Linked DNA regions of Homo sapiens: all the other regions are linked to region 2. Evidence: fine-mapped expression QTL. A gene starts in region 2. Each other region holds a variant in brackets. All regions are shown on one strand. Distances are between the middles of the regions. Region 1 overlaps ARL3 (ARF like GTPase 3). Region 2 holds the start of TRIM8 (tripartite motif containing 8). Region 3 overlaps ARL3 (ARF like GTPase 3).

What was found. PIP is the estimated chance that this variant, and not a neighbour inherited with it, causes the effect.
Region 1: its variant is the best candidate, but not a certain one, in a credible set for the expression of TRIM8 in whole blood (INTERVAL, PIP 0.79).
Region 3: its variant is the best candidate, but not a certain one, in a credible set for the expression of TRIM8 in pancreas (GTEx, PIP 0.55).

The regions. Positions count from the first base shown.
Region 1 is chr10:102,699,705-102,710,783 of GRCh38, forward strand. ARL3 (ARF like GTPase 3) reads right to left here. Exons shown (of 6, transcript NM_004311.4): 2 at 5,642-5,785. Among named protein-coding and RNA genes, the nearest start is that of ARL3, 9.2 kb to the right of the region's middle. The variant T/C (reference allele first, on the strand shown) is at 5,913.
Region 2 is chr10:102,642,445-102,647,444 of GRCh38, forward strand. TRIM8 (tripartite motif containing 8) reads left to right here and starts at 2,035. Exons shown (of 6, transcript NM_030912.3): 1 at 2,035-2,743. The coding sequence starts at 2,174. TRIM8-DT (TRIM8 divergent transcript) reads right to left here and starts at 745. Exons shown (of 1, transcript NR_186489.1): 1 at 348-745. RefSeq lists silencers at 1-364, 695-754, 1,025-1,124, 1,205-2,184, 3,470-3,686 and enhancers at 673-1,427, 1,428-2,183, 2,285-2,414, 3,195-3,294.
Region 3 is chr10:102,666,495-102,677,573 of GRCh38, forward strand. It overlaps ARL3 (ARF like GTPase 3), which reads right to left. Exons shown (of 6, transcript NM_004311.4): 6 at 7,237-10,447. The coding sequence ends at 10,400. Among named protein-coding and RNA genes, the nearest start is that of TRIM8, 28 kb to the left of the region's middle. RefSeq lists enhancers at 2,601-3,203, 3,204-3,805, 3,806-4,407, 7,311-7,860. The variant A/G (reference allele first, on the strand shown) is at 5,802.

The sequences.
Region 1 (11,079 bases), 60 kb after region 2:
GGCTAACACAATGTTTTTCTACAATGAACATATATACATATATAATTACTGAGGATAACTCCAAATGAGAATAGCTCTAATTAACCAACACACATCACATGCCCATGAATCTTCAGGATGGTAAAATTTAACAGGACATTTCATGTAACTAACAACAAAAAAAAAGCTGAATCTGAAGACTCAACAGGAAAGAACACAAGCTAAATTTAAAGAGGCAAAAGCTACAAATCTAGAGGATTAGATTCTTCAAGAGCAGCTCAAAATAAATTTCCTACAGGGATTAATCAGGAAAAAGAGCAGAACTGAGGATGCTATGGGGGAGGCTGGGTTTGTAACTCGAATATATCAGCCCAGTAGGGAGGTGGAGCCCTCAGTTGCAGACACTGATGGAAACAAACAAGTGGTCAGTTAAAATTGTGCTTTCAGGCTGGGTGCGTAGCTCACGCCTGTAATCCCAGCACTCTGGGAGGCCGAGGCGGATGGATCAGGAGGTCAGGAGTTCGAGATCAGCCTGGTCAATATGGTGAAACACCGTCTCTACTAAAAATACAAAAATTAGCCAGGCGTGTTGGCGCATGCCTGGAGTCCCAGCTACTCAGGATGCCGAGGCAAGAGAATCACTTGAACCCTGGAGGCAGAGGTTGCAGTGAGCTGAGATCATGCCACTGCACTCTGGCCTGGGCGACAGAGTGAGATTCCATCTCAAAAAAAAAAAAAGTGCTTTCATAGGGAACTATGATGAACTTGAACTTGAAAAGGAAGTCTTCATTTTTTTTTTGAGACAGAGTCTCGCTCTGTTGCCCAGACTGGAGTGCAGTGGCATGGTCTTGGCTCACTGCAACCTCCGCCTCCCAAGTTCGAGTGATTCTCCTGCCTCAGCCTCCCGAGTAGCTGGAATTACAGGCGCCTGCCACCACACCCGGCTAATTTTTTGTATTTTTAGTAGAGACAGGGTTTCACCATATTGGTCAGGCTGGTCTCAAACTCCTGACCTCATGATCCGCCCACCTTGGCCTTCCAAAGCACTGGGATTACAGGCATGCGCCACTGTGCCCAGCCGGAAGTCTTTTTTTTTTTTTTTTTTTTGCAGAGTTGTGCTCTCGGCTCACCGCAACCTCCACCTCCCGGATTCAAGCGATTATCCTGCCTCAGCCTCCCGAGTAGCTGGGATTACAGGCATGCGCCACCATGCCTGGCTAATTTTGTATTTTTAGTAGAGATGGGGTTTCTCCATGTTGGTCAGGCTGGTCTTGAACTCCCGACCTCAGGTGATCCGCCCGCCTCAGCCTCCCAAAGTGCTGGGATTACAGGTGTGAGCCACTGCACCGGGCTGGAAGTCTTCATTTTTAAGACAGTTACTTGAGGTGAAACTTTGAGGAAGGTGAGCAAATCAGGGACAGGCAGAATTGCCAGGTGGGGGTCAGTGTGGAAAGAAACAAATTAACAAGCCCTTTGGGGTTCCCAGAGAATGTATTGCATGAACAAGAATTTTTTTTAAAGTCTTCTTGCAAAAATTACATAGGGAAACCAGGATTTGAAAAACCCAGTCAACAGCTTGCTACCACAGAAGAGACATTTCATCCAGAATAACTGGAGTTAGATAGCTTTGGGGATGCCTCCACAAACATTTGTTTCATGTGGTAGCCTGTCAACACTGCTGCCTGGCACAGAAGGAGAAGGCACAGTGCAATAGGACAGGAATATTGCCACCCAATTTCCACTGCGGATACACAGTCTCTGGAGGATAACTGGGGATCCTGCTGACTCTCACTTCTCTAACACGCCAATGACTGAATACATTAGAAGTTCGAGAATTCTAAAGGGAAATGGCTTAAGCTTATTGAAAAAAGTTTCATTGTGACTCACTGGCAAAACTACTTTAGTGTATTTAAAAATTCCACACTCAACAATGATATTAAATGTCAAACTCAGTAATACTGAATCCTTTCTGGAATAAAGCAGAAAATAAATAACAGTAAATCTTGGAATACAAGTAACAGTGAATCTTGGAATTTGACCATATGTATCAATGGGCTTAAACAGCTATAAGTCATGAGACCCAACAAATCTAGGAATTTATTCTGAGGAAATAATAATGATGAATGGGCAAAAACATTTAGAGATGTATATTACATAAGTATTTACATATATAATAACATAGAAAGATGTTCATGATCTATTATTAAGTGAACAAGAGGAGACAGGTTCAGTGGCTCACACCCATAATCCCAATTTTGGGAGACTGAGGCGGGAGGACTGCTTGAGCCCAGGAGTTCAAGGCCAGCCTGGGCAATGTAGTGAGACCCCATCTCTACCAAAAAAAAAAAAAAAAAAAAATTAGCTGGGTGTGGTGGCACATGCCTGCAGTCCTAACTACTCAGGAGCCTGAGGTGGGAAGATTGCTTGAACCCAGGAATTTGAGGCTGCAGTGAGCTATGGATGGTGCCACTGTACTCCAGCCTGGCCGACAGAGTGAAACCCCGTCTCTAAAAAAAATCTATATCTAGATATAGATGATACAAGCTAGTATATCCTCTATGAGCCATTTTTATTTTTTATTTTAAATATACCCATCATATATATGCATAGAAAAAAACTTGATACATTCCTAAATGTGAACAGTGGTATGTCTGACTGGGCATTATAGGTGACTTTTAGTTTCTCAATTGTATTTATTTATACTTCCTAAATTTACTACAATGAGCATTTATTACTTTTTCTAATATAAAACAAAAAACATAATAAAAGTTTGTTTTTAAAGAATATGAAACCTTGACACAATATAATATCAGAGTTACCTATAACACATCAAACAAAGCCTGAAGGTTAGAATGAGAACTTTGGGTTCCTAACTTTGAGTTTATTTCTGTGTTTGCAGTGTGGAAGTCTTCACGTTAGTGTTCTTGAGAGACACAGTTTATTGCTAATACTAAAAAAACAAAAACAAAAACAAAAAAACCCCACAAGCGCATGCACACAAAAACTAGTGCTTCTTTTTCTGGCAGAAATCTTGACACACTAATATGTGTTTTCAGCCCTTCTAGGCTAGATTACTGTAATTTGCTTGGGCTATACATTAAATTTGTTCAGAAGCTGTAAAAATTGTTCATTTGGTAGCAGTTGAAATGACTTTTCCATAAAGAGTTGTGAATCAGTAAGACTCATGGGCCGTGAAGTATGCATGCACACCAGCACAGCCATTCAAACCTGACACCAGGGTCTTATCACGGTACAGTGATGGAAAATAACTCTGGTTTTGCTAAAACCTCTAACCTTTAATGCTCAAACACTTTAAAGTGACTAAGACCAACAAGCTCTCCCTGTTGGCTTAGCCAAAGGTCAGGCATTCTTAGGATTTCCTACAGGGAATGAGTTCTAAGAAACCCACTACAGTTTTTCCAATCAGGTCTTGTCTTTTTTTTTTTTTTTTTTTTTTGAGACGGAGTCTCACTCTGTCGCCAGGCTGGAGTGCAATGGCACAATCTCAGCTCACTGTAATCTCCGCCTCCCAAGTTCAAGCCATTCTCCTGCCTCAGTCTCCTGAGTAGCTGGGATAACAGGTGCACACCACCACATCCAGCTAATTTTTGTATTTTTAGTAGAGACAGGATTTCACCATGTTGTCCAGGATGGTCTCCATGTCCTGACCTCATGATCCACCCACCTCGGCCTCCCAAAGTGCTGGGATTACAGGCATGAGCCATGGTGCCCAGGACTTGTCTTTTTTTTTTTTTTTTTTTTTTTTTTTTTTTTTTTTGTGATGGAGTCTCGCTCTGTCGCCCAGGCTGGAGTGCAGTGGCATGATCTCGGCTCACTGCAAGCTCCACCTCCTGGGTTCACGCCATTCTCCTGCCTCAGCCTCCCAAGTAGCTGGGACTACAGGTGCCCACTGCCACGCCCAGCCAATTTTTTGTATTTTTAGTAGAGACGGGGTTTCACCATGTTAGCCAGGATGGTCTCGATCTCCTGACCTTGTGATCCGCCCACCTCGGCCTCCCAAAGTGCTGGGATTATGGGCATGAGCCACCACGCCCGGCCCAGGACTCATCTTTAAACCTCCACGCTGTGAGCACTATCATTCCCTTATCCTTTATGCTTTGCTTGCTTGCCCTTTTCAGGAAAGAGGAAGGTTGATGAGACTGGATTTAAAAAGGCAGGTAATTGGCCGGGCAAGGTGGTTCACGCCTGTAATCCTAGCACTTTGGGAGGCCGAGGCAGGTGGACTGCCTGAGCTCAGGAGTTCGAGACCAGCCTGGGCAACAACGGTGAAACCCTGTCTCTACTAAAATACAACAAATTAGCCAGGCGTGGTGGCGTGCACCTGTAGTCCCAGCTACTTGGGAGGCTGAGGCAGGAGAATCACTTGAACCCAGGAGGCGCAGGTTGCAGTGAGCTGAGATTGCACTGCTGCATTCCAGCCTGGGAAACAGAACGAGACTCTGTCTCCAAAAAAAAAAAAAAAAAAAAAAAGGCAGGTAATTTTTTTTTCTTTTAAAAATTGATACATATTTGTATTTATTAAGTCTGAAAAGTACACGGTAAAATATTAACCATGGTTTTTCTCAGAGTTTTCTCCTTTATACTTTCTCTGTGTTTTCTACATGCACTACTTTCATAATCAGAGAAGATAAAGCTATTTTTTAAAAAAGAATAGGCTGGGTGTGGTGGCTCACACCTGTAATCCCAGCACTTTGGGAGGCTGGGGTGGGTGGATCATTGAGGTCTGGAGTTTGAGACCAGCCTGGCCAACATGGCAAAACCCTGGCTCTACAAAAAAATACAAAAATTAGCGGGCCATGGCGGTGTGCGCCTGTAATCCCAGCTACTAGGGAGGCTGAGGTCCAAGAATCGCTTGAACCTGGGAGGCGGAGGTTGCAGTGAGCCAAGATTGCACTACCACACTTCAGCCTGTGTGACAAAGCAAGACTGTGTCTCAAAAAATAAATAATTTAAAGAAATAAAATAAAAATAAAAAGAATATAGGTACTCAGATCTGCTGGATTTGTCTATATACACACAAACACACACATGTGTATATATGTATACATATATTTTAAATTGTAACATAACACGTACAATATGCAGCTGCTGAGGACATGTGCGGGTGGGGAAGGTGGGGCAGAGACGGAAGAGGGGTGCATGTGCTGAAAGGTGCTGTGTGGAGGCTGAAGCCCAGTGGGATGCAGATGCTGCAGTGGGGTGGCCTGATGAAGTGGGTACTGTGAAGTGTGTCTGCGTACACATTTTAACGTTATAACATAAAACGTACCATTTCAGCCATTTTAAAGTGTACAGTTCCATGGCATTAAATACATTCACACTGTGGGCCGTTACCCACAGAACTCTTTCCATCTTGCAAAACTGACTCACTGTACCCGTTAAACAATAACTCCCCATTCCCCCTCCCCAGCTCCAGTAACCACCATTCTGCATTCTGTCTCTATGAATCTGACTACTCTAAATACCTCATGAGAATGGAATCTCTTACATATTTTTGAAATCTGGTTATCTTTAGATTGTATAGACTTTTCTCAGAGACAAAACTTGGAAGTGGACAAAACTGTATTTCCCATTTTGTCTTTCACATTGCTATTATCGTCTTCCTGTGTCACACGGCATCTGGAGCCAAGGCAGTGCTCACCTGTGTAGGTGTGATGTGGCTGATGTCTTCAGATGCAAGCTGCTTCAGAAGAGTGGTCTTGCCAGCATTATCCAAGCCCAGGAGAAGTATTCTCACCTCCTGGTCTGGTGCACTTTTCAACTTGCGCAAAATTGAGAGCAAGCCCTTCAACAACCACAAAGGAGACAGATTACTCTGGGGGCACTGACTGTGATATTAACTGGATATGAGAATAACTTCTCCTTGAAAAAAGTTATTGGTTATGGAGAGCTTATGTTATTATTTTTCATTC[T/C]AATGCCACTTATTCCATTTGCTTCCTCTTTCCAAGTTTCGGTAGAAGTGCTACAGTAAATTCAGCAACTTAATAAGTAGCAGGGCTTATTTCTGCTCCTCCAATCAATCTAGCTTAGCAGTCACCCCAAATCTCCTGGGAGTGTGAACTCTACCCCATCTGTGTTCCTAAAGCCCTTTACATACACTTAGAGCAGAACATTCATCATATCAAACTAGGTAACTGATGTTTGTATTTTTCTCCTTTACTAAAGTTTCTCGTGGTAAGGGCTATACTTGTCCCATAATGCCTGGCACTTATCAAACAGACACTAGATAACACTTGTGGAATTAAATAGGATGACACACCCAAGTTAACACACGATTTTAAGGTGTTATACAAAAATATATAAAAAGGCTATATAAAATTATAGTTGGGCTTCCTGTTAATGATTTTATCTATTTCATCATTTCACATTGCATGCCTGTATCAAAACATCTCATGTACCCTATAAATATATAACACCATGGACCCACAAAAATTAAAAGGAAAAAATTTTTAAAAAAGATTTTATCGCCGGGCACGGTGGCTCACATCTGTAATCCCAGCACTTTGGGAGGCCAAGGTGGGCGGATCACGAGGTCAGGAGATCGAGACCATCCTGGCTAACACGGTGAAACCCTGTCTCTACAAAAAATATAAAAAATTAGTCGGGCGTGGTGGCAGGCGCTTTGTAGTCCCACCTACTCGAAATGCTGAGGCAGGAGAATCGCTTGAACCTGGGAGGCGGAGGTTGCAGTGAGCCGATATTGCACACTGCACTCCAGCCTGGGTGACAGAGCAAGACTCCGTCTCAAAAAAAAAGATTTTATCTATTTCAGCACATCTTCAAGACTTCTTCATTCAAAATGTTCTACTATCATCTTTCACAAGACCCTACAGGATAGGTGCATGGTATAGATAATCTGTGTTTTTTAGATGAAAAATTTGGTACAACAGAGAAGTTAAGAAATCATAAAAGGCATCCATGAAGCAAAACAAAACAAAACAAAACAAAAACCCACCAAAATTAACCAAGGAATTTTTTACTGTTAATCTAATATTTCCCTCTGTCACCCAGGCTGGAGTGCAGTGGTGCAATCTCGGCTCAACTACAACCTCTGTCTCCTGGGTTCAAGCAATTCTTGTGCCTCAGCCTCCAGAGTAGCTGGTATTACAGGCATGTGCCACCATGCCTAGCTAATTTTTATATTTTTAGTAGAGATGGGGTTTCGCCATGTTAGCCAGGCTGGTCTTGAACTCCTGGCCTCCAGCGATCAGCCCACCTTGGCCTCCCAAAGTGCTGGGATTACAGGCCATGAGCCACCTCTCCTGGCCATTATTTATTATTTTTTATGGATAGAAATATAAAGCATGTTGCTGGGCATGGTGGCTCACGCCTATAATCCCAGCACTTTGGGAGGCCAAGGCAGGAGGGCTGCTTGAGCCCAGGAGTTCAAGACCAGCCCTGGCAACATAGTGAGACCCTGTCCCTACAAAAAATAAAAAACAAATAAGCCAGGCATGGTGGCGCAGGCCTGTGGTCCCAGCTACTCAGGAAGCTGAGGTGAGAGAATTGCTAGAGCCTGGGAGGTCGAGATTGCAGTAAGCTGTATTTGTACCACTGCACTCCAGCCTGGGTGACAGAGTGAGACTCTGTCTCAAAAAGAAAAAAAAAGAAAAAAGAAAAAGAAAACAAAGAAAAAATAAATAAACCATGTTGATTTTTAGTTAAGAACATAAGAACATCTTTATAGGAAAGTTATTTGTTCTGTGCTATAGCTGATAATCTTGTTCTAACGACACATGGCTAGAACAAGAGTCAAAGAATCCCAGAGTTTAAAGGGCATATAATTTAATCTCCCAGCCCAAGAAGAAATTCCTTCAAACTGAGTCTTAGAATTATGCAAAATGGTTGTATTTGTTATTCACATTGTACCAGGCAATAATTCAAACCAGTTTGTTCACTAAGATCAAAGGATACTTCTGAGAAATAATTCTCAACAACTGCATCTTTGGACAATCATACGCAAATATGCATAATTATTAAGAATTCCTTTCTGCCTCAGAGACTCTTTGTTTACCACTTCTAGTACTGTATCTGTACTGACTTGCTAAGGACCACATTAACCTTTCTATGCCTCAATTTTTTCCAGCAGTAAGATGGAAGGTTTAGTCTAAGCTAGACAAATTCTATGCCAAAAGATTTGGGGGACAGAGATTGAATAGATTGGAAACAAACAGAAGTCTGGCTTTTTAAAAGGCCAGACTTTTTTTTCCTTTTTCTTTTTTTTGGGGGGACAGGGTCTTCCTCTGTGGCCTAGGCTGGAATGTAGTGGCGTGAACACGGCTAACTGCAGCTTCGACTCCCTGGGCTCAAGCGATCCTCCCACCTCAGCCTCTCCAGTAGCTGGGACTACCGGCTCACACCACCACGCCCCACTAAGTTTTGTATTTTTTGTAGAGATGGGGTTTTGCCATGTTGCCCAGGCTGGTCTTGAACTCCTAAGCTCAAGCGATCCACCCAAAGGCAAGATTTTTTTTTTTGCTGTTTTTATCTCATCTGGTCTTGAATACTTTGACAGCATTCCTTCTTAAAACTATATTTACAAGAAGTCTCCCTGGTTTCTATTAGCTATATTGCAATCACTCATTTATAATATCACCTTTCAGAAAAGTAAAAATTAAAATTCTGAGATCCTTAGGGGACTGGTGACATAAAAAGGCTAAGAGGAAAACCCATTTTACTACTCATCCTGAGTTCCTGATTGTAAGTGAAAAGAAGAGGTCTCATTACCTCTTAAAATAAATTATAAAACATCTGGAATTTATCAAATTAGTACATTAAATGACACAGGCAAAGTTCTTCTCATGCATTTTCTGCTTAGTGCAGAAATTATGAAGGAAGATCTGTTTCCTATTTTAAAAAAAATTTTTTTTGGCCGGGTGTGGTGGCTCACACCTGTAATTCCAGCACTTTGGGAGGCCGAGGTGGGTGGATCACTTGAGGTCAGGAGTTCGAGACCAGCCTGGCCAACATGGCGAAATCCCGTATCTACTAAAAATACAAAATTAGCCGGGTATGGTGGCACATGCCTGTAATCCCAGCTACTTGGGAAGCTGAGGCAGGAGAATTGCTTAAACCCAGGAGGTAGAGGTTGCAGTGAGCCAAGATCATGCCTCTGCACTCCAGCCTGGACAACAAAAGTGAAACTCCATCTCAAAACAAAAACAAAAAATAAAACCATATATTATATATATATATATATATATATTTTTTTTTTTTTTGAGACAAGGTCTCACTCCTAATGCCAGGCTGGAGTACAGTGGTGAAATCATGGTTCACTACAGCTTCAGCCTCCCAGGCTCAGGTGATCCTTCCACCTCAGCCTCCGGAGTAGCTGGGACTATAGATGTGTACAACCGCACCCAGCTAATTTTGTGTATTTTTAGTAGAGACAGGGTTTCACTATGTTGCCCAAGCTAGTCTCAAACTCCTGGCCTTAGGCAATCTGCCCGTGACGGCCTCCCAAAGTGCTGGGATTACAAGAGTGAGCCACTGCACCCGGCCTATAAAATATTTTCAAAGTTTAAAATTAATGTTTTGGGTTTTTCCTCATGTGTCTCTTTTAAAGAAGTTACTAAAAATACTGTTTTTTTTTTCAGGCAGAGACTTGCTCCACACTCATTACATTTGATATTAAAGAATTAAGAGAAAAACAAGGCCAGGCACAGTGGTTCACACCTGTAATACCAGTGCTTTGGGAGGCTGAGGCAGGAGGATAGCTCAAGGCCAGGAATTCAAGATCAGCCTGGGCAACAAACACGAGACACATATCCCTACCAAAAAAAAAAAAAAAAAATTATCCAGGTGTGGTGGTGTGCACCTGCGGTTCCAGCTACTCAGGAGGCTGAGACAGAAGGATGGCTTGAGCCCAAGAGTTTGAGGCTGCAGTGAACTATGGTCGGGCCACTGCATTATGGGCTAGGTGACAGAGCAAGACTCTGTCTCAAAAAAAAAAAAAAAAAAAAAGAGACAAACATAATGTTTATTCACCTTAAAAGGAGAGGAGCAAAGCACAGATAAGAAAGAAAAAGAAATCATTCTAACTATAAGGCTGAGTGCAGTGGCTCATGCCTGTAATCCCAGCACTTCGGGAGGCTGAGGCTGGCGGATCATTTGAGGCCAGGAGTTTGAGACCAACCTGGCCAACATGGTGAAACCCTGCCTCTACTAAAAATACAAAAAATTGGCCAGGCATGGTGGTGGGCACCTATATTCCCAGCTACTTGGGAGGCTGAGGCAGGAGAATCGCTTGAACCTGCGAGGTGGAGGTTGCAGTGAGCCGAGATCACACCAGTGTACTCCAGCCTGGGCCACAGAGCTAGACTGTTTCAAAAAAAAAAAAAATTCTAACTATAGATAAACTTTATTAACCTAATGGTGTAGAATACAGTGCTTCTACATTTCTAATGAGTAATTTTCCTTATTAGGAAATAATAACTTCAGATACTTCACCTTTGAGTGAAATTACAGAGAAATGCAAAGTTCAGCTAATGTTTTCTTCCAGCAAAATGATAAATGGCATTTCAAGCATGGTCTAGGGAAGACAAGTGCAAATATAATACAGCATCATATTAATCCAACTACTGAGGATGGGATCACAGGATTATCAGGGTTTGCTAAATAGGGAAGAGGATATTTATAGAGATCAGGGTTCTGCCTGAAAGGTACAAAGTAAGCTGATTTAAGAGGCTGGATGAAAGAGACCAGAATAAGTCTATTCTGTGCATCTATACATATATGCCCATATTTTATTTTAACTGTCAAATGAAGGGAGACAGCGATTAGAAGTTAAATTTATCATAGGGCTGAGTTTTGCAGTATAAATACAATGACATTAATTTTTAAAGTGCATTTTTTGGCCAAAATATCCATTCACGCAATTATCATTAAACACCCTTAATGTGCCCCAAGTACAACAGTGAGCAAAACGGGCATGATCTCTATGTAGGATTTATATTCCTGTGACATTAAATAAAACAATTTAAGAAACATGAACTTCAGTTAAAAGTATATTGTGTGTTACCAGCATGTGTGTATACAAGTTATCTACACCCTGGTGGGCAGAAGTGGTCTGACTCAACC
Region 2 (5,000 bases):
CCGGCCTTGATGTAGGGACACCACCCCCCGTCTCCTTCCGCCCCAGCCCGGGAGCTCGGCTCGCTGCAGCCCCTGGCCCTCCCGTTTCCCCACCCTGCCTGCCCCGCTCTGCTCCGAACCCATTGTATACGGCCGGCTGCGGACTCCCAGGCCGGGCCGTGGCGGGGGCCCCGGGACCCCCGAGTGCCCCTCCGGCTGGTCCCGCGGGCCGCGGCATCTCCGCCGCCGCCTTCCTCGCGGCGGCGGCGAGGGCGCCCTTTCCTCCCCGCGCGGGTGACGGGGACGCACCCCCACCCCGGGGCGCCCCTTCGCGGGGGGAGAGCCGGGCCCGAGCAAGTCGAGGCAGGAAAGGGCCGCCACGGACTGCCCGGCCCGCCGATCGTTTTTATTATCGAGATTATTATTAAAAGGGGGCGGGGACCCCAGGACGCGGGGGAGGGGCTGGATACGCAGGTATTTTTATTAAACAGATTATTCCTGAAATAATAATACGCGCAAGATGGCTGAAGGTGGCTGTGATGAGAGTGTTGGGGTTGGGATTTTTTTCTTCCTGTTTTTTCTTTTTTGATCTGAGGATAAAGCTCTGAGGCGACAGCGGCTGCGGAGACCCTGCCCGAAGCGCCCTCCCCTCCCTTGAGAAGCCGCGGGCAGACAGACGGACCTCGGACCGAGCAACGGGTGCGGGCCCGCCCCGGACGCGTCGCCTGGGCAGCAGCCGGGGACCGCGGGCTCTCGCCTTTCTGCCGACTTCTTCCAATTCTCATCTTCTTTTATTTTTTGGACAGGACCGGGGTGGGTGGAGCAGAGGTGGAGAGAAATCGGGACTTGGCATTTTCTCCCTCTCTCTCTCCTAATTTGTTGGAGGCCGCCAGCCCTCCCCTTGGAAAAAAAAAAATCCCACCAAAAAAAAAAAAAAAAGAATCAGGAGCGAGAGGACGCCGCGGGGCCCTCAGCGAGCGCGCCCAGACCCCGGCCGCCGCCGCGGAGCCCAAGATGGCTGGGCGCTGAGGGTGGCGGCTCGGCCTGGCCCCGCCGCCGCAGGCTGGCTCCGACCGCAGCCCCGAGCCTTCCAGGCCCCAGCAGAGGCCGAGAAGAAAAGAAAGTGGGGAGGAGGGGGCCGGGGGGGCGAAGGGGGAGGGCCGGGGGAGGGGAGGGGAGGGCCGGGAGCCGAGCCTCCTGTTCATTAGCAGTTGAGAAAAATTCCTTTCTAGTTTGATCAATCCTTGTTTTCCTCGGCAGAGCCCGGGCGCCCGCCCAGCGCGGAGACGGGCGCGCGGGGTCTCTCCGCGGCGGGGGCGCCGGGCCTCGGGGGAGCGCAGAAGTAGCCGCCCGGGGGTCAGGCCGGAGCGCCGCCGGGGCTTCTCCCTCCCTCCCTCGCCGGTTGCCTTTTTTTCCACTTCTCTCCCTCCCCCTTCCGTTTCTATTTGTGAAGGGAGGAGGAAGGCAGAGGCGGGCTGGTGTCTCTGGCCGGGGACTGGAATTTCATCTGAATGACTGCCCCTGCGCGCACGCAGCGCCCCGGAGTCGGCCCGCCCGCGCCCCGCAGCCCGCGCCCGGCCAGCCAGCCGGGGGACGCCTGCACCGTGGCCCGGGGACCGCCGGCCTGCCCCTCCCGCCCCGTCCGGATCTAGCAGCCCTCGGCGCGGCCGCCCTCGCCTCCTGGCCCCGCAGACCCCGGGCTCCGGCCCCTGCGAGGGAGGTGCGGCGCCGACGAGCCAGGCAGGAGCCGCCGCTGCCGCCGCCGCCGGAAGAAGTGTGCTGCTCCCAAGCTCCGTCTGCCGCGGGGCGCGCCCCAATGTCAGCCGCGGGGACGAGCGCAGGCCGCGGGCCGCCACTGCCCTAGCCGCGCCGACGGGGAGGCGGCCTCTTATATGGAATTTGGACCCCGGCGCTCCCCTCCAAGGCTGGAGTCCCGGCCGCGGCCCTGGCGCAGTCCGCCGCCTCCCGCTAGGCGCTCGGGAGGAGGAGGAGACGCAGCCCGCTGCGCGCGCGGCGTGAGGACCGCGGCTCCCTCCTCCGGGGGGCGGGCACGCGGAAGGCGCTGCTGACTGAGCGACCGTCGGGGCCGGCTGGGGCCGGAGCTCGGGGCTCGGTGGGCCTACAGCGGCTCCGGACGGACCCCCGGGGCTGGGGAGTCGGGGAGGCCTGCCCCGGCCCCCTGCCCGCGGCCGCCATGGCGGAGAATTGGAAGAACTGCTTCGAGGAGGAGCTCATCTGCCCTATCTGCCTGCACGTTTTCGTGGAGCCAGTGCAGCTGCCGTGCAAACACAACTTCTGCCGGGGCTGCATCGGCGAGGCGTGGGCCAAGGACAGCGGCCTCGTACGCTGCCCAGAGTGCAACCAGGCCTACAACCAGAAGCCGGGCCTGGAGAAGAACCTGAAGCTCACCAACATCGTGGAGAAGTTCAATGCCCTGCACGTGGAGAAGCCGCCGGCGGCGCTGCACTGCGTGTTCTGCCGCCGCGGCCCCCCGCTGCCCGCGCAGAAGGTCTGCCTGCGCTGCGAGGCGCCCTGCTGCCAGTCCCACGTGCAGACGCACCTGCAGCAGCCCTCCACCGCCCGCGGGCACCTCCTGGTGGAGGCGGACGACGTGCGGGCCTGGAGCTGCCCGCAGCACAACGCCTACCGCCTCTACCACTGCGAGGCCGAGCAGGTGGCCGTGTGCCAGTACTGCTGCTACTACAGCGGCGCGCATCAGGGACACTCGGTGTGCGACGTGGAGATCCGAAGGAATGAAATCCGGGCAAGTACCCTACGCGCGCGCGCGCACACACACACACACAGACACACAGTCCCTTCCTCTCTCCCGCCCCGGGACCACCCATCCCGACAGGCTGACTCTTGTGACATCAGGCCAGTGGCCCCTGGCCAAACTCTTCTCTGAAAGTTTGGGGACAGGGTCCTGGGAAGAAGGGCCCCGGGTCGCTACTTGGTACATTCTCGCACCTGTGCGCACAGGGTCCGTCTTCTGAGTGCTTTATGGGATTGGGGTGTGGGACCGTCAGGGGTAGAGTCTGGGTGTTGCTTTTCTGTGGTGCGCAGCTCCCTCCCCCAGTCTTGTTGCTGTAGGCCCTACGGGAAGTCACCGAGGCAGTGACCCCGGTCCTGCCTCTCCAGCTGCTGTTTATGTAATGAGTGTCCCGGTGCCGCTGCTGTGGCTGACATGATCCATGATGCTGGCATACCAATGAGGAAGTAAACAAAAGCAGCCATGTTAGTTTTCAGCGCTATTGGAAACACACTGGGGGGGGAGTGGGGGGAGTTTCCAGAGGGAGAGCAGAACTCCGGCCGTCTCTCTGGACAGGGCCTGGGCAGCCAGCGAGGCCCCGACAGCGGCTCCGCTATTTGGATTCCTCCCGAGAGCCGGCTCTCCCTGTGTGAGAATCGCTGCCCTGTGTGCCTGTGTGTCGCACGGGCCGCATGAACAAGCCTTCAAGTATCTGTCTTCATCATCCTGGCCCTTTCGCCTAGCACAGCCCTCTCGCCGCCCTCCCACATTTGGGGAGGGGAAGTGGAAGACGGAAAAAGAATCCTGTGGGTTTAAGGTTGAGCCGCCTTGAAATCTGGTTTCAGGCAGCTGGCTCCCCTGGGCTGCCGGCTGGGTGATTACGGAACCGCGTCCCCTCCCATTGTATACACCCTGCGGCCGCGGCCAATGTCAAACCGCCTCCCCCCTCAGGCCTCTGGGCCTGGTTTTGGAGCTGGACTGAGGCAATACTTCCGTCCCCTTCAGTGGAGGGGGCTCCTCCTAGGTCCCTCCCCAGTCCTCTGGCTTTCAGGGTTGAGTCATACCAAAATGAAGGGGTTGGCCTGACACCGAGGAGTCCTCTCTGAAGCCCCACCTTGGGGCCTGGGGCCTGGGTGTGATATCTGGGGGCTAGGCTGCACTCTGGTGGGACTGGGAGTGTCTCTGGGTGGGGATCCCTGGAGGTTAGTGGAGGCCAGTGCGGAGGCTGGCTATGAGGAAGCTCTGTTCAGGGCATGATTGGAGATGGGGCTGTTTCCTGTGTGGGGGGACCAGTCAGAATGAGTCACTGTTTAGCAATTAAAAAACATACACATACAACCAACAAAAGGCAGGAGGGCCACCACAGGCTGGGGCGGGGGCAGCAAATACGATTTGCTGTATAATTAGTTTCCAATCGGATGGACTAGCCCTGGGTTTGTGTGCCAGGATAGGCCTCTGGTTTCTTAAAGGAAGTGTGTCCTCCACCCCCTGTGTCCTCCATCCCCGTTCAGGGCAGGCACAGCCCACACTTTCCCCAGTATTGGGAAGCTGCTGCTATTAATAAAGATGGAAGGGCTGGGGGAGGAGGCCGGGAAAAGTGCAGAGGCAGGAGAAAGGAGGGCTGTCCAGTTCTGTCCTGGGATTGGCAGTGGAAAATGAGAGGAGGGGAAAGGAGATGTGGCTGAAAGGAACAGGGGAGGGGCAGCAACCTGGGCGATGGGCGGATGCCTGCCCGCACCCACAGTGCTGCTGTAGCTGGTCTGAGTTCTAGGGATGTCTTTAATTGGGGTGGGGGAGAAAACGTCATTATACCTGACTTGGTGTAGGAGGATAGCTTTAGGTGTCTGTGTTTTTGAATGTCTTTGAGACTGTGTGCTTCGCCCTCCAATGCACCTGTCTCCTGTCTCTACAGTTCAGGGCACAGGCAGGGGTGGGTGGGTGGCATGTGCATGCAGAGTATTCCCTGGGGTGCCCCCCAGCAGGCCCCTCATTTCCAGACTCGTGGATTGGATGGAAGCAGGCACTGAACTTTGTCGGCAACTCCGCAGGGTGTGTGTGTGCGTGTGTGCGTGTGTGTGCGTGCGCGTGCATGCGCGTGCTTTCTTGTGCCTGGTGTGGGCAGGCTCAGAAGTAGTGGGTTGCATCAGGGCCAGATGTGCAATTCTGTGCGTTCAGCAGCTGTGCCCTGCAGTGGCAGCCTGAGCCTCATCCTTCTCCAGGTTCCCCCTCCCCAGGCCCCTGATTCTTTCTGGTGCCCCAGGCCACTGGGGTT
Region 3 (11,079 bases), 27 kb after region 2:
ATCCAATAAGTCATTATTGAGCTCCTTCTTGTTCCAGGCATTGCTTCAATGTCAGGGATATAGCAGCGAACAAAACAAACTCTGCCATCTTGGAGCTGATCATCTGTGGGGAAGAGCTAGACAATCAACCCTAAAGAAGTCACCGTGAGAGGCCGGGCCTGGTGGCTAATGCCTGTAATCCTAGCACTTTGAGAGGCCAAGGCAGGCAGATTGCCTGAGCTCAGGAGTTCGAGACCAGCCTGGGCAACATGGTGAAACCCTGTCTCTACTAAAAATACAAAAAAATTAGCTAGGCATGGTGGCACATGCCTGTAATCCCAGCTACTCGGGATGCTGAGGCAGGAGAATTGCTTGAACCTGGGAGGCGCAGGTTGCAGTGAGCCGAGATCACACCACTGCACTCCAGCCTGGGCGACAGAGTGAGACTCCGTCTCCAAAAAAAAAAAAAAAAGTCACTGTGAGGCTGGGCGCAGTGGCTCACACCTGTAATCCCAGCACTTGGGAGGCCGAGGTGGGCAGATCACCCGAGGTCAGGAGTTCGAGACCAGCCTGGCCAACATGGCAAAACTCCGTCTCTACTAAAAACACAAAAATTAGCCGGGCGTGGTGATGCATGCGCCTGTAGTCCCAGCTACTTGGGAGGCTGAGGCAGGAGAATCACTTGAACTCAGGAGGCAAAGGTTGCAGTGAGCCGAGATCGTGCCACTGCACTCTGACCTGGGCAACAGAGCAAGACTCCGTCTCAAAAAAAAAAAAAGGCCAGGCACGGTGGCTCATGCCTGTAATCCCAGCACTTTGGGAGGCCGAGGCAGGCGGATCACGAGGTCAGGAAATTGAGACCATCCTGGCTAACATGGTGAAACCCCGTCTCTAATAAAAATACAAAAAAATTAGCCGGGCGTGGTGGCGGGGCGGGCACCTGTAGTCCCAGCTACCTGGGAGGCTGAGGCAGGAGAATTGCTTGAACCTGGGAGGCGGAGGTTGCAGGGAGCCGAGATCGCACCACTGCACTCCAGCCTGGGCAACAAGAATGAAACTCCATCTCAAAAAAAAAAAAAAAAAGTCACCATGAGTTGGCGATAAGTACAGTCCAGGAAGGCAAAGCAGGTGGGGGCACAGGGGATACCAGAAGGGGAGGGGGTGTGGAAGTGTTTACAGGGAGGACTGGGCAGTCTGGCTGAGGAGGTGGCATTGAGCAGAAACCTCAGAATTTGGGGGGGCAAGATCTGGGGGATACTTGGAGCTAGAATGCTTCTGGCAGAGAGAACCAGTGCAAAGGCCTCAGGCAGAAAATGTTGTTTCAGGAAGAGTCAGGGGGCGAGGGCAGCTGGAAAGTGTTGGGGGTGGGAGAGAGTAGCAAGTGATGAGGTCAGACAAGGCAGTGAGGGGACAGGGCAGGGCACAGGCTATGGGAGGGGTTTTGCTTCTGCTCGAGAGATATTTGCTGGATGAAGGGTTTCACAGGGAGAGGGTTAGAGGGTACCCGGCTGTCCTCTTAGGGAGGTAGGACTTGAAGCACGCCCTAAAGGAACAGAAAGCTCAAAAGAGGGGGCAGACATCCCAGGGAGGAGGTCGCTGTGCACACAGGTGGGAAAATGAAATTGTAGGGATTGTGCTTGGGGGAGTAGTGAGGAGAGACTTGGGCACAAAGGCTGTGTGGAGTCCATGGCTGATAAGTCCATTAAAAAGGTTTGGGGTCAGATCAGCAGGGCCTTGAATAACAGGATAAATGGTTTGGCTGGAGGGACCCACAGCAGCAGGGCCTCTGAAGGCATCTTAGCAGGGTACTGCATTTTAATAATGGCGCTAACCCCTCAAAGGAGGATCAGGCAGGGGAGTCCAGCCCAAGCTGGGAGGCAGTGGGAGGGCCAAGGGAGAGACAGGTGGGGTTCAGGGTGCACCCTCAACCCAGTCTAAGGAGTGGGAAGGCAGGTGGCTGGGTGTCCAGGTCCTGCTGCTCAGCCAAGGGATGGAAGCCTGGATCAAGCTTTCCCCTTCCCTGCCAGCTAGCCATGGGCCCCAGAGTCAGCAGAAAATCCCGGCTCCAGGGAGGAGGCGGCGTGGAGCCAGAAGCTGCTGAGGGAGCACTGGCAGCAAGATGCCATTGTACATCCGCAATCAAGATGCTTCAGAGGAAATCAAAAGCACCAACCAGGGAAATGATGTGTGCACTCTCTTTCTCTCAAACACACATACAAACTTCTGCCTCCAAAATGGGTCAAGTGAAGGCTGTGGGCGTGGGTTGGGGAGGGAGGGCTGGGAGAAGTGGGGGCCTGGGAGCCCGGGAGCAGGCTGGGCCCTGGTGCCCACTCACCCTCCTGGCATAGGGGATGGCAGCAGCTGCAGGGTGGGGCGGGATGTGAGGATAAATATACACCTCCCATGCATATGGATCATGCTCACAGCTGCCCTGCTTGCTTAGTGTTCATTAGGACCAACTGTTTCAGGAGCAGTGGCAGGCGGGCGGGAGAGGGTGATGTACCCATTCACAGACTGGGGGTAGGGGGGCTGCCTGCAGCTGTGCAGATGCCTCCCCCACTGCCTGGATCAGCATCTCAGCCCCTGAATGCCCCTTCCTCCTGCTTTTTCTTCTTCCGACCTGCTGCTATGCCAGATCTGGAGGTCTCAGGGCGGGAAAGGGGCCTGGGGCATGAGTAAGGATGAAATCCAGGCTGCATCCCCATAGGAGCTGGGGAGAGTGAGGGAAGAGTTGGGCTGGATTGGATCCCTTGGTCCAGGATGGGCTGTTGTTTACAAACCAAAGCTTCTTATCCCCATCTTCCCAGAAGCCATCTGTAGCATTCCAGCAGGAAAACTGCTTTGGCACTGTCCCCTGGAGACTCGAGGGAAGCCCCATTCCTATGTGACAACCCTAGACCAGGCTTGCTCTGTGCCTCCAAAGGGAATCCAAGGGGGCTGAGGTTGGTGGACCAGCATCATTCTGCAGGATTCTGACGTCCTGGCAGCAAGGAGGGCTAGGGAAGGAGAATGCTGGGCTCCAGCCCGGGACCAGGTGCTCTAGGTGGGCCTGGGCCTGGGCTGGGGAACAGTGCTGAAATGTAGGCCCAGGGAAGGGTCTGGCTGGTGTCACAGGCAGGGCCAAGTGTAGCTGTACAGCTTGTGCCCTACCCAAGGGAACTGGCTGAGGGGCCTGCAGCTGGTGCCACGCCTTGTACTCTGGTGTGGGGCATAATCTCCCACATGAGTCAGTGGTGGCCTGGGTGACAGGCCTCTCTAGTGTTAGGAATGTGGCCAAGAGGGCCTGCCTGTGGACGGAGCCCGTGTGTCTCCTATGGTGAGCTCTTTCTCCTCCTGCTCCAGCGGTCTTGGGGGGCTCCTAGGGCTGTGCCTCCAGGGGGCTGGCACAGGGGCTTCTGAGTCCTGGGTGGAAGTGGAGGCAGCTGATCCCAGGCCAAAGCCCCAACTACAACAGCCTCCCCAGGCCCTTTCCTTGGTTGTAAGGGTGGGGCTGGGCACCTCCTGCCCCCTCTACTGGTGGCATCCAGAGCAGCAGCTGACTCTGGGACCCCAGGGCAGGGTCTTCTGGATCCTGAAAACAGGGTGAGTGGCAAAAAGCGAGGGCCGCCTCTCACCTACCTCCCTGGGGTGGCATCATGGAATAAAATGGGCTTTCAGCAAGTGGGCTGGCGGGAATCACAGTCAAGCCATTTCCTAGCTGTGTGACTCTGGGCAAGTGACTTAACCTTTGTGAGCCTTGGTTTCATCATCTGGGAACTAGGGACAGTAAACGGCTATCTTGTAGGGCTAATCAAAGGATGAGACCCACTAATGACTCAAAGGAGAAGCAGTTGGCTTAGCTAAATGGGATTCTGACCCCAACCCTGTACCTCTCAGCTTCAGGTATCCAAGCAAATTCTCCCTGCCCCCTCCTGGACACAGCTTGCTTTCTGCAGTTCTGTCATTAATATTTCATTTCTTTAGCAAAGGCTTTTTGTCCCTGGGACACTGCTATTCGCTCTGGAGAAGAAACTGTTCCGTGTTCCTTCGTGCAGAAGGATTCCTTAGCTCCTTTTCTGAGAGCAGAGCATTAGGAGCCAAAAGCAAACAGGTATTGTGGTATAAATTTGGGACCCAGCAGTGAAATAGGCCTGAGTTCAAATCCTGACTGTGCCCAGTTCTTCCTGTGCGATCATGGGCGAGTGATTCAAATTCTATGAGCCCCATCCTCATACTGTGAATGACAATACCTACAGTTAACAGTGTCTTTGCGAGGATTAAATAAGGTAACTGTGAAGTACCTGGTGCAAGTGGCTACCTCCTTAACTCTTTCCCCCGGTTCTGACACTGTGGGGGACTGGTTGTTGGCTGCACTTCCACGCCTGTGTGTGGTTGGTTCTGGACACACACACACACCAGTGCTGGACCAGCAGAATGACTGCAGGGAGCCAGGGCTCTCTTTCTCTCCTCCCTGCCCCTGCTCCTGGTGGCTGCAGCTTCTCTGTGTTCTGCAGTGTTGGAAAAGGAAATTACAGAACAGATTGCAATTAAGGGGGATGAGGGGGAGACAGGGACAGAGGCCGTGAGATGCAGCTTGACTGAGCACTAAACTGTGTTTGCGCCTGGAGCCAATCAGGAGCCTCTGATAAGAGCCTTTCCCACTTACAAAGCTAAGCAGGAGGTGTGGTTGGGGTGGCCCTGGGAGTCCCGAAGGGAGGGGGCTGCTGGCCTTGAAAGTCACAGAGCCACATGGGAGGGAAGGTGGGAGGTAGAGGTCTTAGGGGCCTTGGAAAGCCTGGACTCCAGACTTTCTGCCAGCTGTTATATTTGCTACCATTGATTTAGCACCTACTACTCACTGTACGGACATCTCATCTCATCCTCTTGACAACTGTGCAGCATGATTATTGCCCAATTTTGAAGATAAGAAACTGAGGGCCAGGCACGGTGGCTCACGCCTATAATCCCAGCACTTTGGGAGGCCAAAGCACGTGGATCACCTGAGGTCAGGAGTTCAAGACCAGCCTAGTCAATATGGTGAAACCCCATCTCTACGAAAAATACAAAAATTAGCTGGGGATGGTGGCACATGCCTGTAATCCCAGCTATTCGGGAGGCTGAGGCAGGAGAATCGCTTGAACCTGGAAGGTGGAGGTTGCAGTGAGCCGAGATCGTGCCACTGAATTCCAGTCTGGGCAGAAGAGCGAAACTCCGTCTCCAAAAAAAAAAAGAAAAGAAAAAGAAACTGAGGCATGGAATGTTCCTTCTATGTGCTAGGTATTGTCCTAGATCTAGGCACTTTGTTTACATGAGATCTCTTTTAAATCTCCCTGTGCTGACCTAGTCAACATGAAAATGCTGGGATTATGGGCATAAGCCACCGCACCCAGCCACACTTTTTAATTGCACTGCGCTGTCCCTTTTTTGGGCAGGGAGTGCTGGGAAGGGTTTTGCCAGCTTTATCAAAACAAAACCAAAAAGCTAGGATGGCCAGTTAAATTTGAATTTAAGGTAAACAATGCATTTTTCTAATGTTATACTGATGTCCCAAATATTGCATGGGATATACTTGAATTAAAAACTATTCATTGTTTATCTGAAATTCAAGTTTAACTGAATGTTCTGTAATGTATCTGGCAACCCTAATTCTTCTTTCTCCTGCTTCCAGCTACCAGCTAGTTCTGCCCACAGCTTGCTCTTTAAAGGCCGGGCGCAGTGGCCCACGCCTGTAATCCCAGCACTTTGGGAGGCCGAGGTGGGCAGATCACGAGGTCAGGAGATTGAGACCATCCTGGCTAACACGGTGAAACCCCATCTCTACTAAAAATACAAAAAAACCCCAA[A/G]AGTTAGCCGGCGTGGTGACAGACGCCTGTAGTCCCAGCTACTAGGGAGGCTGAGGTGGGAGAATGGCATGAACCCGGGAGGCGGAGCTTGCAGTGAGCTGAGATTGCGCCACTGCACTCCAGCCTGGGCGACAGAGCGAGACTGTCTCAAAAAAAAAAAAAAAAAATTAGCCAGACATGGTGGTACATGCCTCTAGTCCCAGCCACTTGGGAGGCTGAGTTGGGAGGATGGCCTGAGCCCAGGAGGTTGAGGCTGCAGTGAGTTGTGACTGTGCCACTGCACTCCAGCCTGGGTGACAGAGCGAAGTCCTGTCTCAAAAACACAAAACACACACACACACACACAAATGGTGAGGCCCTTTGGGACCAGCTGTGCTGCTGTGTCTCTAGCCTGCTGAAGGGACAACGAACTCTTCTGCTCCAGAGGGCAGAGCCCGGGACAGCTGCCAACTCTGCACCTTCCATGTAACACTGGGCAGGTCTGTTCCCTCTCGGAACCCTCTGTAAATGGAAGATCCAGTATTAGGTACTATGTAACTGCAAGTCTCCCTGAAGGCCCTAACTTTGCTAATTATTTCTTCTCCCTTTTTCCTGTCTGTTGGGCTGGACTTGGCCAAGGATGAAACCCAGTCTATGGTTGTGCTGTGTGAGCAGAGGACACCCAACACCTGGGGCAGGGAACCCAGGGGAGCAGTGCTTGTCAGAGGCTGAGGGGAGGAGGCTGGGCAGAAGTAGCACTCAGAGGCTGGGGGGGCTGAGGCTGCTGGGAGATGAGCCATTGACAAATTTTTTTTTTTTTTTTTTTTTTGCAATGGAGTTTTCTCCTGTTGCCCAGGCTGGAGTGCAATGGCACGATCTCAGCTCACTGCAACCTCTGACTCCTGGGTTCAAGCAATTCTCCTGCCTCAGCCTCCCAAGCAGCTGGGATTACAGGCACGTGCCACCACGCCCGGCTAATTTTGTATTTTTAGTAGAGACGGGATTTCACCATGTTGGTCAGGCTCGTCTTGAACTCCTGACTTCAGGAGATCTACCTGCCTTGGCCTCTGAAAGTGCTGGGATTACAGGCGTGATCCGGCCTTGCCATTGACTGTTTTTGTTCTCCAGAGGCGGCAGCTTGCTGAGCATTGAGACCCAGGCTCCAGGCCCCACCTGCACTTAAAGGCTCTGTGATTTCAGGCAAATTCCTTAACTGGGGCAAATGTCTCAATGTCCTCTGCTGCAAAGGGGGACTAATGCTCACCACGATGTATCTGAAGTGCCCGGCACGTAGGAGGGGCTTAATGAAGGGCTATTATTGCTATTGTTGGTATCCTATTTTATATATATATCCTTCTGGAAAAAACCTCTTGAAGAAAGCTAACCCCTGAAAGGACAAACACATTTCAGGCCCTCTCTGAGCTTCAGCAAAGAACACAACACATTCCAGGCTGCCTTCGTTCCAGCTAAATTTTATTTGTCGGATTTTTGACAGACGTCTAAATTATACATTGAGTTTTCCACATGACCAAACACCACATCTCTTCCTTTGATTATCATTTTCAAAAGGGATTATAAAAAAAGAACCTTTTGATGGATCAGACTGAACCCTGAAACCACATGGAGTGCAGAGCTAAAAATAAAAGGAAGTAAGAACTGGTCCCCGAGAAGGAAAGGAAAGGGAAATCAAAGCAAACTCTGACGGGAATGGAGAGACGAGTCCTGGTGAGGGTGACATGGTGTCACCCTCCAGGCCAGGCCGGATAAGGAGCGGCCAACAGTGAGGGTGGGGCGCAGAGTGGCACAAAAATAGCCACTACTTTAGTCCAGAGGGGAATAAAGAAATTTGTCAAAAGCAAGGAGAGAGAAGTGGAGACGGAGGGAGGGAGGAAGGAAGGGGGCAGGACCATGTCCTCCCAGCAGCCGTGGGAGCTGCGGACTCCTTTAACCCTGGCACATTTCTAACCGCCGGCATAATCGCTGACTTTCAGCTGTGCACCGACATGTTCCCCAGCTCAGCCCACATCAATGACACCCTTGTTTCCATAGTAACCAAGGGAGAGTGAAGGGGAAAGGGTGTGTTGCACTGGGTGCAGGGAATCCAGCCAAAAGCAGCCACACGGGGTAGGTCGGGAGGAGGGGAGGACTCGAGTTTTTCCCACAACTGGCTTGAGCACATATCACGAGCACCCCCCAGGCCTTGCCTGCCCTCCGGCCCCCAGCCCTCTCCCCCGCACATTCAGATGCAATTGTGCGCAGGGCAAAAGTCTCGCTAAGACTCACTGGGGACAGGAGGAGGGGAAAAGGGGTCTTCCCTTTCCAGCTTCAAATTCTGTCTTCTGGTCAGGGGGCAGGAGTGGGCAGGGAAGAGGCAAGAGGGCTTTAAAAAGTATTTTGTTTTTAAATGGGAGCTTTCAAACTCTGCCTTTTTCAGGCTTCTCTCATCTACCCCAGAGCCCCAGGAGGGTTCAAAAGGGCTCAAAGGGAAGATGAAAGCGTGTGACATCTGCAGTGTCTCTGTGTCTCTGCAGCTGAGAGCAAATCAGAACATTTACAGAGGCCGTTATCAGAGGAGTGGCTTCTGCCTGCTAGGAGAGGCCTTGGGATGGCTCTTTAAAACAGTCCCCTAAGTTGGTGGTAAAAGAACAAAAATATTTTACAGACCCTCCAATGCCAAAGTTCCATACTGCAGTGTTCCAAAATTGCAGACCTCCAAGCAGGCATTTTGCCCCTCAGATAACTTGTCCCTGCTGAACTATTCGGAAGAAAAAACAATTTGCAAGTGCTAGAGCCACATTTGCAGCCTGGTAGAAGGGGGATTTCTGATTCCTTATAATTCTGTGTTGCCTCTGTAAGGGAGAGCTTGGGTGAGCCAGAGAAGCCAGTGGAGGAGGCTGCAGAGAGCAGCTAGCTCTGAGGTTAAAAAAACCCCTCACTTTCTTTTGTTTTGCAAGTCCTTACAGGTCTGTCCACAGCAACTCTGGGGCACCTTTTCACGGCTGGCTTTGTTAATGACTTTCATGTCAGATCGCTTTTGAAGCTGGCTATGCCTCAGTCTCTGCTGCACTCTTAGCCAGAAGCAGCTGGGTATTGAGGGCCAGGGGCTGCAGCGGCCCCTTCAGTCTGCTCACACGCCCTGATGGGCTTGGGAAGGGCCACCTCCCAGGATGAGAAGGCAGCTGGCCCCCAGGGACCCACCAGTCACTGGACAGTCTCTTATTCATTCTCTGAAAACCCCTGAGCTCAGGCACCAGAACAGAGTTTAATTCAGGAGCCGGGCAATGCTCTGGCCTGTTTCCCCATGTTTGAAGCTGAGGATTTCTGAGGTTCAGGGAAACAAGCTCGTTTTGCAACGAGGGGCAGGAGAAATGTTCTGCTATTCCTCTCCAATCAATCAACAGAGGACGGACATTCTGCTGCAGAGAGGCAGAGGAGCCCAGCAGCTGGGGTGACTCTTGATTCCTTGGACACGACCCCTGCAGTCACACACACACCCATGTCCTCCCCAGCAGCAAACCCTCTCCATCCAGGAGCATCCCACACCACCAAGTTGCCAGCACTGTAAAAATTGATCTAAAAATCGATCTGCCTGGCTTTTCTCAGTGGAGCAGGTTCATGGTAAAGCTGCATTTATTTCTAAAATCTGATAGCAGCGGCCTATTGTGATCGTTTAAACACAGAATTCTTTGAGCTTTAGAAATCCTGTCTATAGGACGGCCGTGGAGAAGCCAGCTAATCTCAGAGTCGGCTGCTCACTGCTCCACTGAGCTGGAGAAAGCCTGTTTACGCTAGCCTGAGCCCTCGATGTGAGAGCTTTTTAAGGACCTTGTAATTTTTCTGGAATTAAACCTCCCACCTCTCCTTACATTCCAGATGTCATTACAGTCAAAAGTCATAAGAATTTGCTTCTCTGTGTGGCTGGCTGGGGCAGAGGCAGGGGTGGGTGGGATGGGGTATGTTTCTGTAGTGACTTGTCTGCAAGAAAGACTTTTTTTTTTTTTTCTGTCCAAAGAGTGAGGATTACATACGTAGTCTCCGACCTGCAAGACGATGAGATGGTTTAATTATCTGCCTTTTCTCCCCCCACCCCCACCCAGCAGCTTCCTGTCGGACAGACTGAAGCCTGGCTGGGCTAGTGACGGTAAAAATCACTGACAGCACCAGCAAACACTGTCTGTGGTTTCAAAACCATGGAGGGAATGCAAGGGACGGGTCAGTAAATAAATGAACTCAGCAAAGCTGCTTCTTCCTCTTTTTCTTTTTCTTTTTTTTTTTTTGAGAGGAAAAAAAAGCCCACTGGAATTGTCTAAACTGCAATGCAATCTCTTGCTCATTTAAAAGATCTCATTTTCTAATCATGTGCTTTGAGACATTTAATACTATTTCAATTATGCAGAGGAAATAATATAATTCCTTTATTTGAAAAATGATACTGAACCTCAGAGATCAGTTAAATCTACTGCTGGAATGGGGATTCTTTCTAAACCGTGTTGTTCCCTCTCTTCAAACAGCTGGAGCTGTACACAGATGGAAAAACATTTGGTCAGAAAGCAGCAAATTAGTGTTTTTCAGGACCGAATTCGGCTCCCGCAGCTCCTGCATCTCCATTCGTCTAGATTTTATTTCTTCTTTGCATTGACATTTTTGCAGACCCAGTTCATGCCATCCTTTGAGGGAAATGGGCAGAGAAAGGCAGTGTTAGTTATAAGAAAAGCACCACACACTCTAGCCTGGAGGGGCGGGCAGTGGGGGTCCCAGGCCCTCCCTCCCAGACCGCCAGCTTTAGGGAGTTTGCTTGGCTCAGGGGCCCACCTGGGTGACCAGGGACAGTGACCTCCCAGGAGGAGGAGGAGGGAGGTCTCTGAGAGCACAAGAGGGCGATGGGAGGGGGATGCCCAGCGCCTGAACTTGAGATGGGTCCTCAGGAACTCCCTCTGAAAAAATAAACACATCTGCCTGCATCCAAAGCCTGACTGAAGAGCTATCAGGAAAGATTCCAGCCATTTTTGGCTTTTTCTAAAAGGTGACCTTTGCCAGGGCATTAAATTCAATAAGCCACCCTTTTGGTGCCCCATGTGTTTACAGTGTGACAGTGTACACTTGGGTTAAATTAAATTTCTTTTTGGAAAAACAAACCTACTGCAGTGAGTGTTGCGAGGCACACACCAGGGCGATGTGCATTTACTTCTCTTCCTGCAGCACTCCAGATAGGTTTAAAAGGGTCTGGCCCGCTTCTTATAGCTTTAAGCACCAGCATCCAGAGGGACTGGGGAGAAGGTTCCCTTAAAGGCACAATGAC